Linked DNA regions of Homo sapiens. The main gene of each other region encodes a partner of the protein of the gene in region 2 in a complex. Links are inferred from orthologs where the notes say so. Each region holds a gene or a part of one and is shown on either strand. Other genes may lie near its edges. The genes, in order: F2 and F2RL3.

Region 1 (4,074 bases), on a different chromosome or scaffold from region 2:
AAGCCTGGCCGACATGGTGAAACCCCATCTCTACTAAAATACAAAAAATTAGCCTGGCATGGTGGTGTGCGCCTGTAATCCCAGCTACTTGGGAGGCTGAGGCAGGGGAATCACTTGAACCTGGGAGGAGGAGGTTGCAGTGAGCCGAGATGGTGCCACTGCACTCCAGCCTGGCAACAGAGCGAGACTCTATCTCAAAATCAATCAATCAATCAATCAATCTTTGAACTAGTGATTTGAGATTTCACCTTTATCACATTCTAGATTGTATCTTATTTTCATTTATTTATTTGAAATATAGACAAGTCTCCCTGTGCTGCCCAGGCTGATTTCAAACTCCTGGCTGGGCTCGAGCAAGTCTCCCGCCTTGGCCTCCCAAACTGCTGGGATTACAGACGTGAGCCACCATACCTGACCTAGGTTTTATTTTTTAGTTTTATTTTTTCCTGCATCCAGCTAATTTGATTTGATTTGTAGAGACGGGGTCTTGCTATGTTACCTAGGCTGGTCTCGAACTCCTGGGCTCAAGTGATCCTCCTGCCTTGGCCTCCCAAAGTGTTGGGATTACCAGCATGAGCCACGGTGCCCAGCCCCACGTTCTAGATTTCTATGGATAGAGTATGCTTAAGGATGAGTATGTTTCTGGATGTTCGACTCGGCTTTCCTGGTCTGTTGTCTGTCTGTGTACAGCGTCACATTGTTTTAATGATAGAGGCTTTAGCGTACATAGCTGGGAAGGCTAATGTTCTCTTTTAGTTTTTCTTTCCAGTGGTTTCCTGGCAATTCTTGCATGTTTGTTTTTCCATATGAACTTTAGTGTCAACATGCCTAGGTCTATAAAAAAGCTTGGTGGTAATTTTATTGGGATTATGACACTTCAACAAATTAACTGGGAGAATGGACATATTTTTGATGTTGAGTCATTTTATCCAAGGATAAGAAACGTTTTCCTATTTGCTCAAGTCTATTATTGTATCTTTCTTGACTGCTGCAATGTATTCTCTTATAATTTTTTCTATTGGTATCTTATTTTATGTATTTGTAATATCTTATTTTTCTTGAGTAAATTAGTTAATGGCTTGCCGGTTTTCTCAAAACAAATATCTAGGGATTTGATTTATGAAATTATTAGGCCTATTATTTTTCTTTTTTTTGAGATGGAGTCTCACTCTGTCGCCCAGGCTGGAGTGCAGTGGCGTGATCTCAGCTCACTGCAACCTCCACCTCCTGGGTTCAAGTGATTCTCCTGCCTCAGCCTCCCCAGTAGCTGGGGTTACAGGTGCACGCCACCATGCCCGGCTAATTTTTTTATATTTTTAGTAGAGACGGGGTTTCACCATGTTAGCCAGGCTGGTCTCGAACTCCTGACCTCATGATCCGACTGCCTCAGCCTCCCAAAGTGCTGGGATTACAGGTGTGAGCCACCGTGCCTGGCCTTTTTTTTTTTTTTTTTGAGACAGAGTCTTGCTCTGTCACCCAGGCTGGAGTGCAGTGGTGCGATCTCGGCTCACTGAAAGCTCCACCTCCCGGGTTCACGCCATCCTCCTGCCTCAGCCTCCCGAGTAGCTGGGACTACAGGTGTACACTGCCACGCCCAGCTAATTTTTTGTATTTAGTAGAGACAGGGTTTCACCGCGTTCGCCAGGATGGTCTCGATCTCCTGACCTTGTGATCCGCCTGCCTCAGCCTCCCAAAGTGCTGGTATTACGGGCGTGAGCCACTGCGCCCGGCCAGGCCTATTATTTTTCTATTGTGGTTCATTAATTTCTGCTTTTTTCTCTTAAAAAGTTTGCTTACGTTTTTGTCTGGTTTACTTTGCTGTTCTCTTGCTAGCTTTTTTTTTTTTCAGATAGGGTCTTGCTCTGTTGCCCAGGCTGGAGTGCAGTGGCACAGTCATAGCTCACTGCAGCCTTGAACTCCTGGGCTCAAGCAATCCTCTTCTTGCTTCAGCCTCCCACGTAGCTAGGATCAGAGGTACATGCCACCATGTCCGGCTAATTTTTTTTTTTCGAGACAGAGTCTTGTTCTGTCGCTCAGGCGGTAGTGCAGTGGTGCAATCCCGGCTCACTGCAACCTCCACCTCCACCTCCCAGGTTCAAGCAATTCTACCTCAGTCTCCTGAGTAGCTGGGATTATAGGCGCACACCAACATGTCTGGCTAATTTTTGTATTTTTAGTAGAGACAGGGTTTCACCACGTTGGCCAGGCTGGTCTTAAACTCCTGACTTCATGATCCGCCCGCCTTGGCCTCCCAAAGTGCTGAGATTACAGGTGTGAGCCACAGCACCTAGTGAAGGTGTGGTTTTTTTGTGTAGGTTTTACTGTTGTTAGTGTTGTTCTGTATTGTTTGTAGAGGATACGTGGGGAGATTTGGATAAAAGCAACTATCATTATTATCCTCATCAGACTTGTAGGTCTAACTTTTTAATTTTTTAATTTTTAATTTAAATTTTTTTCTTGGTCTTTTATCATTAATTAATTTTTTCGAGACAGGGTCTCACTCTGTTGCCCAGGCTGGAGTGTGGTGACATGATCACGGCTCACTGCAGCCTTAACCTCCCAGGCGCAAGTGATCCTCCTCTCTTAGCCTCCCGAGTAGCTGGGACTCCAGGCATGTGCCACCATGCCCAGCTAATTTTTTGTAGAGAGAGGGTTTTGCCATATTGCCCAGGCTGGTCTTGAACTGCTGAGCTCAAGTGATCCACCCGGCTTGGGCATGAGCCACCTCCCCTGGTCTGGTCCAACTTTTTAAAAGCATTATTCTGCCTGTTGGGTGGAGAATAGACTGTAGGTGGGCAAAGAATGAAGGAAACTAGTGGGTTCAGGAGCTCGAGCTAGAAGTGGTGAGAAGGGTTTGGATTTGGGGTCTATGCTGAAGGTAGAGCCGACAAGATTTGCTAGGATTGGATGGGTAGGGTGAGGAAGTGGGGACAGCAAGAATGACTGGAGGGGTAAGTGGACTCTCACCAGCTGTGTCTCGTGAAGGGGCGTGGCTGGGCTATGAGCTATGCTCCTGAGCACAGACGGCTGTTCTCTTTCAAGGTTACAAGCCTGATGAAGGGAAACGAGGGGATGCCTGTGAAGGTGACAGTGGGGGACCCTTTGTCATGAAGGTAAGCTTCTCTAAAGCCCAGGGCCTGGTGAACACATCTTCTGGGGGTGGGGAGAAACTCTAGTATCTAGAAACAGTTGCCTGGCAGGGGAATACTGATGTGACCTTGAACTTGACTCTATTGGAAACCTCATCTTTCTTCTTCAGAGCCCCTTTAACAACCGCTGGTATCAAATGGGCATCGTCTCATGGGGTGAAGGCTGTGACCGGGATGGGAAATATGGCTTCTACACACATGTGTTCCGCCTGAAGAAGTGGATACAGAAGGTCATTGATCAGTTTGGAGAGTAGGGGGCCACTCATATTCTGGGCTCCTGGAACCAATCCCGTGAAAGAATTATTTTTGTGTTTCTAAAACTATGGTTCCCAATAAAAGTGACTCTCAGCGAGCCTCAATGCTCCCAGTGCTATTCATGGGCAGCTCTCTGGGCTCAGGAAGAGCCAGTAATACTACTGGATAAAGAAGACTTAAGAATCCACCACCTGGTGCACGCTGGTAGTCCGAGCACTCGGGAGGCTGAGGTGGGAGGATCGCTTGAGCCCAGGAGGTGGAGGCTGCAGTGAGCCACTGCACCCCAGCCTGGGTGACAGAGTGAGACCCTGTCCCAAAAGAATCCACTATCTATCTTCAGAGCAGGGCCAGGTGAGAGGAAAGATGGCAGGTTGAATTTACAGGCATTAAAGATGTTCCACCCTCTGGGTTTTAATGGATTATCTCATTTAATCCTCACAAGAGGTAGGTGAGTAAACTGAGATTTGGAGAAGTACCTTGTCCAAAGTCACATGGCTAAGAAAGCTCAAAGTAGGACTTCAAATATAGAAAATATTGAGTGAGGACGGTGCTTTTTTAGTTAACTCCCTACATCTTCCCTTGTATCATTAAAATGATATCAGATCAGGTAGGGCATGGTGGCTCACACCTGTAATCTCAGCAATTTAGGAGACTAAGGTTGAGGCTAGGA
Region 2 (7,981 bases):
GCATCCAGCCCAGAAAGCCGAGCCAGAGATGCTGGCAGGGCCCAGGAAGCAGAGTTTGATCCTGTTTCAGATTCCTGGGCTGCCCTGACAAAGTGCCACATGCCAGGCAGCTTAAAACAATGAGAGTTTATTGTCTCACAGTTCTGCAGGCCAGAAGTCCAGGGTCAAGGTGGTGGCAGGGCTGGTTCCCTCTGGAGGCTGTGAGGGAGAGCCCGTCCCAGGCCTGTCTCCTGGCTGCTGGTGGCTGTTGGCTGTGCTTGGCATCGTGGCATCCCTTAGTTTGTGTCCGTCCGCATCACTCCCATCTCTGCCTCTGCCGCCACATGGCTTTCTTCTCTGTGTGTCTCTGTGTCCTCTCCTCTTCTCTTTTTTTTGGAGACAGAGTCGCTCTTTCGCCCAGGCTGGAGTGCAGTGGCACCATCTCAGCTGACCGCAACCTCCGCCTCCCAGGTTCAAGCGATTCTCCTGACTCAGCCTCCCCAGTAGCTGGGTGGGCACCTCCCCAGTACAGGTGCCCACCACCACGCCTGGCTAATTTTTGTATTTTTGGTAGAGATAGGATTTCACCATGTTAGCCAGGCTGGTCTTGAACTCCTGGCCTCAGATGATCTGCCCACCTCGGCCTTCCAAAGTGCTGGGATTGCAGGTGTGAGCCACCACACCCACTATCTCTCGTCTTCTTTTTTTAATTTTAGTTTGTTTATTTTTGAGACAAGGTCTTGCTCTGTTGCCCAGGCTGGAGTGCAGTGGTACAATCATAGCTCACTGCAACCACAACCTCCCAGGCTCAAGTGATCCTCCCGCCTGTGCCTCTTGAGTGGCTGGGACTATAGGCGCATGCCACAATGCCTGGTTCATTAAAAAATTTTTTTGTGTGTAGAGATGGGATCCCCCTATGTTGCCCAGGCTGGTCCCAAACTCCTGGCTTCAAGCAATCCTCCATCTTGGCCTCCCAGAGTGCTGAGATTATAGGCGTGAGCCACTGCACCTGGCCGTCACTTTTCGTCTTTTTAAAATTGAATTAAATTAATTAATTAATTAATTTAGAGACAGGCTCTCTGTCACGCAGGCTGGAGTCCAGTGGCGCAATCTCGGCTCACTGCAACCTCTGCCTCCCAGGTTCAAGCGATCCTTCTGCCTCAGTCTCCTGAGTAGCTGGGATTACAGGCGCCAGCCACCAAGCCCAGCTAATTTTTGTATTTTTGGTAGAGATGGGGTTTTACCATGTTGCTCAGGCTGGTGTTGAACTCCTGGGCTCAAGTGATCCATCCGCCTTGGCCTCTTAAAGTGCTGGGATTACAGGCGTGAGCCACCAGGCCTGGCCTCTCCTTATCTTATGAGGACACCACCCACACTGGATGTAAGGCCCACCCTTCTCCAAAGTGACCTCCGCTAGTGACAGTTGTAACAACCCTATTTCCAAATAAGGTCACATTCTGAGGTCCCAGGAAGGACGTGAAGTGGGGGAAGGGACCCTGTTCGACCCAGTACAGCCTTCCCCACTTTGTGTCACTGGAGCAAAGAGGAGTGGGTGCCCATGCCCCGGCTGCCCCCTTCCGCAGAGGCCTTGGAGGCCACGGTGTCCCCCGGCGACCGTTGGAAGAGCCCTGCCCGCACCTTGTCCCTGAACTCGGCCGACACGTAGTAGTAGATGAAGGGATCCACGCAGCTGTTGAGGGTGCTCAGCGCCAGGCTGGGCACGTAGGCACCATAGAGGTTGCCCCAGGCGCTGGGGCTCGGGTCCGAGTAATGCAGCAGCAGCAGCAGGTTGCTGGGCACGAAGAAGGCCACGGCGGAGGCCAGCACCACTGCGGTCAGCCTCAGCGCGTGGCCGTAGCGCCGGCCGCTGGCCGCCAGCGTGTGCAGGGTGGCCCCGTAGCACAGCAGCATGGCCAGCAGGGGCAGGAAACAGCCCAACAGCGCCAGGCAGGTGAAGGCCGGTTGCCAGTGGGAGGCCTGTGCGTCCAGGGGCAGCGCGTCATGGCAGAGCACGCGATCGGAGCGCGCCAGCCGGAAGGTCTGCCGCTGCAGTGTCAGGGGCAGTGCCAGGGCGGCCGCCATGAGCCAAGCAGCCATGCAGAGTCCAAGGGCCAGGCGCCGGCCACGCAGGGCGCGGGCCCGCAGCGGGTGCACCAGGGCCAGGTAGCGATCCAGGCTGACGGCGGCCAGCAGCAGCACTGAGCCATACATGTGACCATAGAGTGCGGCCGTGGCCAGGCGGCAGGCGGCCTCCCCGAAGGGCCAGCGCTGGCCACGCAGGTGGTAGGCGATCCGCGGGGGCAGCGCCAGGGCCAGCAGGAGGTCAGCAGCCGCGAGGTTCATCAGCAGCATGGTGGAGGGCAGCCGAGGTGCCTGCGTGGCCAGCACCCACAGCGCCAGCCCATTGGCCGGCAGCCCCACCACCAGGACCAGCCCATAGAGGGCGGGCACCAGCCTGGTGGGCACCCAGCCCAGAAGCAGTGCCCGTGAGCTGTCCGGGAGCTCCAGGGTGTCACTGTCATTGGCACAGACTTGGCCTGGGTAGCCGCGGGGGGCAGGCAGGATTGAGGGCGTGCTGTCTGGGAGAGAGAGGGGACCTCAGTCAGCCCCTGCCTCGGCAGGTGACGAGAAGCAGCAGGGAGGGAGGTGCTCAGAGCCTGGGGTCTGCCCTGGTGGGAAACAGCTGGACATGACACTCAAGGGAATAGCCCAGCCCTATGGGGTCAGAGACGGGATACAGAGTGGGCTGGGCTGAAGCCCGCAACTTCCCGGCCTCCCCCTCCCCAGCTCCGGGCCCCCAGCTCCATCTCTGATGTAACCCCATCTCTGCACCCCAAAGCCAGGACCACTCACCATCACCACCTCCGGTGCTCCCGCTCTCGTCGTAGACGCTGGGGGTCTGGGTGCCGCCAGACAGGCTGAACCCCAGCACCAGGGGCCACAGGAGCAGTCGCCCCCACATGACTGCACTCAGGCTGCTCTGGGCTGTGGCCTCAGGCTTCCTGCCTCGCCGGACCCTGAGCCCCAGCTTCTGGAGCCGAGGCGGACGAGCAGATCGCGCCGGTAGAGATAAACCAGGAAGGCTGCCCCTGCCCCCGCAGACCCACCAGGGCCGCTTGCCAGCCAGCCCGTGGGAGGACTGGAGTGTGGGTTATGGAGACCGGGCTGCCCCACGTGGCTATATCCAGTGTGGCGCCTCCCAGGGACCCAGGTGCCAGGCCAGCAAGATGCAGGGGGGGGGGTCCCAGCTGCAGCCAGCACCCCCGGTCCCTGACCAGCCCAGGAAGCATCTGCGGTTCAAGTGGCCACTTCCTGCCAGCCGCTCACATCTGCAGCCACTGTTCTCACGACAGCCCTGTCCTCACCCCAATCCCCACGCCCATCACGGGCTCTGGGCCTTTCCTGAAGTCACCCCCCGACTTCCTATCTCTGGTGAGCAGGATAAGAAGAGCCCTGCTAGGCCAGGCACGGTGGCTCACGGCTGTAATCCCAACATTTTGGGAGGCCAAGGCAGGCAAATCACCTGAGGTTGGGAGTTTGAGACCGGCCTGACCAACATGGAGAAACCCCATCTCTCATAAAAATACAAAAATTAGCTGGGCTTGGTGGCAGATGCCTGTGGTCCCAGCTACTCAGGAGGCTGAGGTGGGAGAATTGCTTGAACCCAGGAGGTGGAGGTTGCAGTGAGCCGAGATCTTGCCACTGCACTCCAGCCTGGGCAACAGAGCGAGACTCGGCAAAAAAAAAAAAAAAAACCAAGGATGGGCGCCTCCCAGAGGGTAATAGCGAGGGTCCCTTCAGACCCCCAGAGCAGCACGAGCCCAGCGTCAGGGACTCTGGCTGAACCTCGAGAGCCCCTCAGCATCCTCGGCTGACCCCATACTCACAAGGCACCCCTGTATGAGTGCCTCACTTCACTCTTGCCCAGGGGACACACGGGCATCTGTAGGGGAGACAGTGATGCTGGGGACAGCACCTGCCGAGGACCGGGGGGACTTCGGGGTGTGTGGCTCGCCTGCTCTGACCTCTGACCCTGAGTGAGGTGGCCAGGTTGAAGGGTCCCCAAGCCAGCCTCCAGGGGGCCTCCCTCCTCTAGCCCCAGCACATCCCCACTCCTGGGTACCATTGGATGGGGGCTCATCGGGCAGATGAAGAAACTGAAGCTCGGGGGGGTACCCCTTCCCTCTTCTGCACAAGGCCCCTCAGTGTTGTCCCTCCCTGCCTCAGAGAGGCCTCAACCCGTCGTGCCCTGGGGGAGTCTGGTATGGGTGGTTCTGGCCCCAGTGTGCTCAGCGCTGGGCTACAGGGGATGGGGGACAGGGCTTGGGGGGGTCTGGGAGCAGGAGGGCCTAGTTGGGAGCCATGAGGATTGGGGAAAATAAAATGAACTAGGGATGGGGGAGGGAGGGGTCCAATGTGGCCGTTTCCTGCCTGGGGGAGCCCTAATCTCATCACACACTTGAGCACTCGGGGATCAGCCAGGAAGTGACTGAGCAGAGTCTTGGACAGAGTCAACACCCAGCTCCAGGAGGAGACACTGAAGCCTGGAGAGAGAGTCTAGCTGGGGCAGGGTCTCAGAGGCCCTGCTCCCATTTCTGGGCAGTTTCCATGGCCACCAATGAGAAAATCAGCTTCACGTCAATGACTTGGGGAAAAAGGTGGCTGAGGACACCCTCAGCACACGGAAAACCCACGCCTGGGCTCCCCCCTCCACCGTCTTCTCTGTGAGCAGAGTGGGAAGCTGTGCAGGGGAGGCTGGGCACACCGGCAGTCCAGTGATGCTGGGGCAGGGTGGTTTGAAGATGATGCATCAAAATAGTGATGCACGACCGGGCGCAATGGCTCACGCCTGTAATCCCAGCACTTTGGGAGGCCAGGTGGGTGGATCACGAGGTCAAGAGATCGAGACCGTCCTGGCCAACATGGTGAAAACCCGTCTCTACTAAAAATACAAAAATTAGCCAGACATGGTGGCGCACGTCTGTAGTCCTAGCTCCTCAGGAGGCTGAGGCAGGAAAATCTCTTGAACCCAGGACGCAGGGGTTACAGTGAGCTGAGATCACACCACTGCACTCCAGCCTGGGCAACGGAGCGAGACTCCGACTCAAAAAAAAAAAAAAAAAAAAAAAAAAGCCAGGCACAGTGGCTCACACCTGTAATCCCAGCACTTTGGGAGGCAGAGGCGGGTGGATCACCTGAGGTTGGGAGTTCGAGACCAGCCTGACTAACATGGAGAAACCCCATCTCTAGTAAAAATACAAAATTAGCTAGGCATGGTGACATATGCCTGTAATCCCAGCTGCTCGGGAGGCGAGGCAGGAGAATCACTTGAACATGGGAGGCAAAGGTTGCAGTGAGCCGAGATTGCATCATTGCACTCCAGCCTCACTCCAGCCTGGGCAACAAGAGTGAAACGCGTCTCAAAAAAAAAAAAAAAACATAGTGACGCACATGCCCTTATACTCAAGGGTTCCATGTCTAGGAATTTCTGCCAGACACACGCACAGGAAGATGTCCTTGGGAGGATATCCACACAGCAGCACAAAGCAGGGAGGTGCCCGCCAACAGCCCCTCCCCGGGAACAACACGGCAGCACAGGCTGTCGGGGGAACCCCAGCAAGCAGAGGTGACGATGACATTGCCCCTGTCAGGCACAAGCTGTACCCAGGCGACACTGCCCAGGTACTTCCCGGAGGACGCTGGGCGCGACAGCTTTGGAGGAGAGGAAACCATGTGTCTGTTTTGTACTGTTGGAGTTTTCTGTGCACTGTGTTACTTTCCATAAAAACTTTTTTTTTTTTTAAGATGGAGTCTCGATCAGTCGCCCAGGCTGGAGTGCAATGGCGCAATCTCAGCTCACTGCAACCTCTGCTTCCTGGATTCAAGCAATTCTCCTGCCTCAGCCTCCCCAGCAGCAGGGATTACAGGCGCCTGCCACTATGCCCGGCTAATTTTGTGTATTTTTAGTAGAGGCGGAGTTTCGTCGTGTTGGCCAGGCTGGTCTCAAACTCCTGACCTCAGGTGACCCACCTGCCTCAGCCTCCCAAAGCACTAGGATTATAGGCATGAGCCACTGCACCTGGCCAAAATATTTTTTATTTAGAGATGGAGGTTCGCTCTTGTTGCCCAGGCTGAAGGTGCAATGGTGCCATTTCGGCTCACTGCAACCTCTGCTTCCTGGATTCAAGCGATTCTCCTGCTTCAGCCTCCCGAGCAGCTGGGATTATAGGCACCCGCCACCATGCCTGGCTAATTTTTGTATTTTTGGTAGAAACGAGGTTTCATCATGTTGGCCAGGCAGGTCTCAAACTCCTGACCTCAGGTGATCCACCCGCCTCAGCCTCCCGAAGTGCTGGGATTACAGGCGTGAGCCACCACGCCCGGCCAAAATCTTATTTTCTTAAAAAGGGCAGACAGCCAGGCCGGGCTGTTTCAGAGTGGTGGCTCATGCCTGTAATCCCAGTGCTTTGGGAGGCCGAGGTAGAGGGATCGCTTGGGCTCAGGAGTTCAAGACCAGCCTGGGCAACATAGTGAAATCTTGTCTCTACAAAAAATCAAAAAATGAGGTGGGAAGATTGCTTGAGCCCAGGAGGTCGAGGCTGCAGTGAGCTGTGATTGCACCACTGCACTCCCACCCGGGTGACAGAGTGAAACTCTGCCAAAAAAAAAAAAAAAAAAAAAAAAAAAGGCAGCCTTAAAAAGTAAGGGAATTCTGACATATGCTACATTGTGGATGAATCTTGAGGACATTATGCTGAGGGAAATAAGCCGGTCACGGAAAGACAAATCCTGAGTCATTCCACTCATGGGAGGTCCCTGGAGTGGTCACCTCCATAGAGACAGGAAGTAGAATGGGTTGGGGGGTGCCAGAGGCTGGGGGAGGGGGATTGGGGAGTGAGTGCTTAAGGCCACAGTGTTTCAGTTTTGCAAGATGGAAGAGTTCTGGGCTGGGTGAGGTGGTTCACGCCTGTAATCCCTGCACTTTGGGAGGCCAAGGCAGGTGGATCACTTGAGGTCAGGGGTTCGAGGCCAGCCTGGGCCACAAAGTGAGACACCCCCCCAACCATCTCTACAAAAAAATACAAAAATTAGCCGAGTGTGGTAGTATACACCTGTGGTCCCTGCTACTCGAGAGGCTGAGGTGGGAGGATCACTTGCGCCTGGGAGGCAGAGGTTGCAGTGAGCAGAGACTGTGCCACTGCCCTCTAGCCTTGGTGACAGAGCGAGACTCTGTCTCCAAAAAAAAAAAGTTCTGGAGATGGATGGTGACAATATGAATGTACTTACTGCCACTGAGCTGAACACTTAAAAATCATTAAGATAAACTTGACCACAATTCAAATAACTTTTTTTTTTTTTTTTTTTTTTTTTGGAGACAGAGTCTCACTCTGTTGCTCAGGCTGGAGTGCAGTGACACAGTCTCTGCTCACTGCAACCTCCACCTCCAGGGTGCAAGTGATTCTCCTGCCTCAGCCTCCCGAGTAGCTAGGATTACAGGTGCATGCCACCACACCCGGCTAATTTTTGTATTTTTAGTAGAGGTGGAGTTTCACCACCTCGAACTTCTGGCCTCAGGCGAGCCGCCTGCCTCAGCCTCCCAAAGTGCTGGGATTACAGGTGTAAGCCACTGCACCTGGCCCTTTAAATAACTTTTTTAAATGGGGAAAAATTGGCAGACAGGCGCAAGTCAGTGGCGTGTCCTGGATTTCATTGTCCTCCAACCCCTCAGGTCCCTGGAAGCTCCTGGATGTGGCCTCCACTCTCTCCTGCCTTCACTGCCTCCAGCAAAAGGTCAGGGTCAGGGAACAAGTTAGAAGCCACATGGGCAGGCTGGGTGCGGTGGCTCATGCCTGTAATCCCAGCAGTTTGGGAGGCCGAGGCAGGCGGATCGCCTGAGGTTGGGAGTTCAAGACCAGCTTGACCAATTTGATGAAACCCTGTCTCTACTAAAAATACAAAAATTAGCTGGGCGTGGTGGTGCGTGCCAGTAATCCCAGTTACT

The links.
Region 1: the proteins of F2RL3 (region 2) and F2 are in contact, whole or in part, in a crystal structure (PDB 2PV9), measured with the Mus musculus proteins. The link is inferred for Homo sapiens from one-to-one orthologs. Residues at the interface, in NP_032001.2 of Mus musculus: Asp54, Lys55, Pro56, Asn57, Pro58, Arg59, Gly60, Tyr61, Pro62, Gly63, Lys64, Cys66, Asn68, Asp69, Ser70; in NP_034298.1 of Mus musculus: Glu385, Leu386, Leu387, Cys388, His403, Tyr407, Trp410, Asp411, Arg428, Arg453, Glu454, Asn455, Leu456, Trp501, Gly502, Asn503, Trp508, Thr510, Gln516, Arg538, Ile539, Asp559, Ala560, Cys561, Glu562, Gly563, Asp564, Val585, Ser586, Trp587.

Annotation. Positions count from the first base shown.
Region 1 is NC_000011.10:46,736,006-46,740,079, forward strand, and holds the end of F2 (prothrombin preproprotein), read left to right. Parts: intron 1-3,042; coding exon 3,043-3,113; intron 3,114-3,259; coding exon 3,260-3,403; 3' UTR 3,404-3,501; downstream 3,502-4,074. UniProt on the Homo sapiens protein: Thrombin, which cleaves bonds after Arg and Lys, converts fibrinogen to fibrin and activates factors V, VII, VIII, XIII, and, in complex with thrombomodulin, protein C. Functions in blood homeostasis, inflammation and wound healing.
Region 2 is NC_000019.10:16,884,150-16,892,130, reverse strand, and holds the start of F2RL3 (proteinase-activated receptor 4 preproprotein), read right to left. Parts: upstream 3,133-7,981; 5' UTR 2,942-3,132; coding exon 2,833-2,941; intron 2,559-2,832; coding exon 1,510-2,558; 3' UTR 1-1,509. UniProt on the Homo sapiens protein: Receptor for activated thrombin or trypsin coupled to G proteins that stimulate phosphoinositide hydrolysis. May play a role in platelets activation.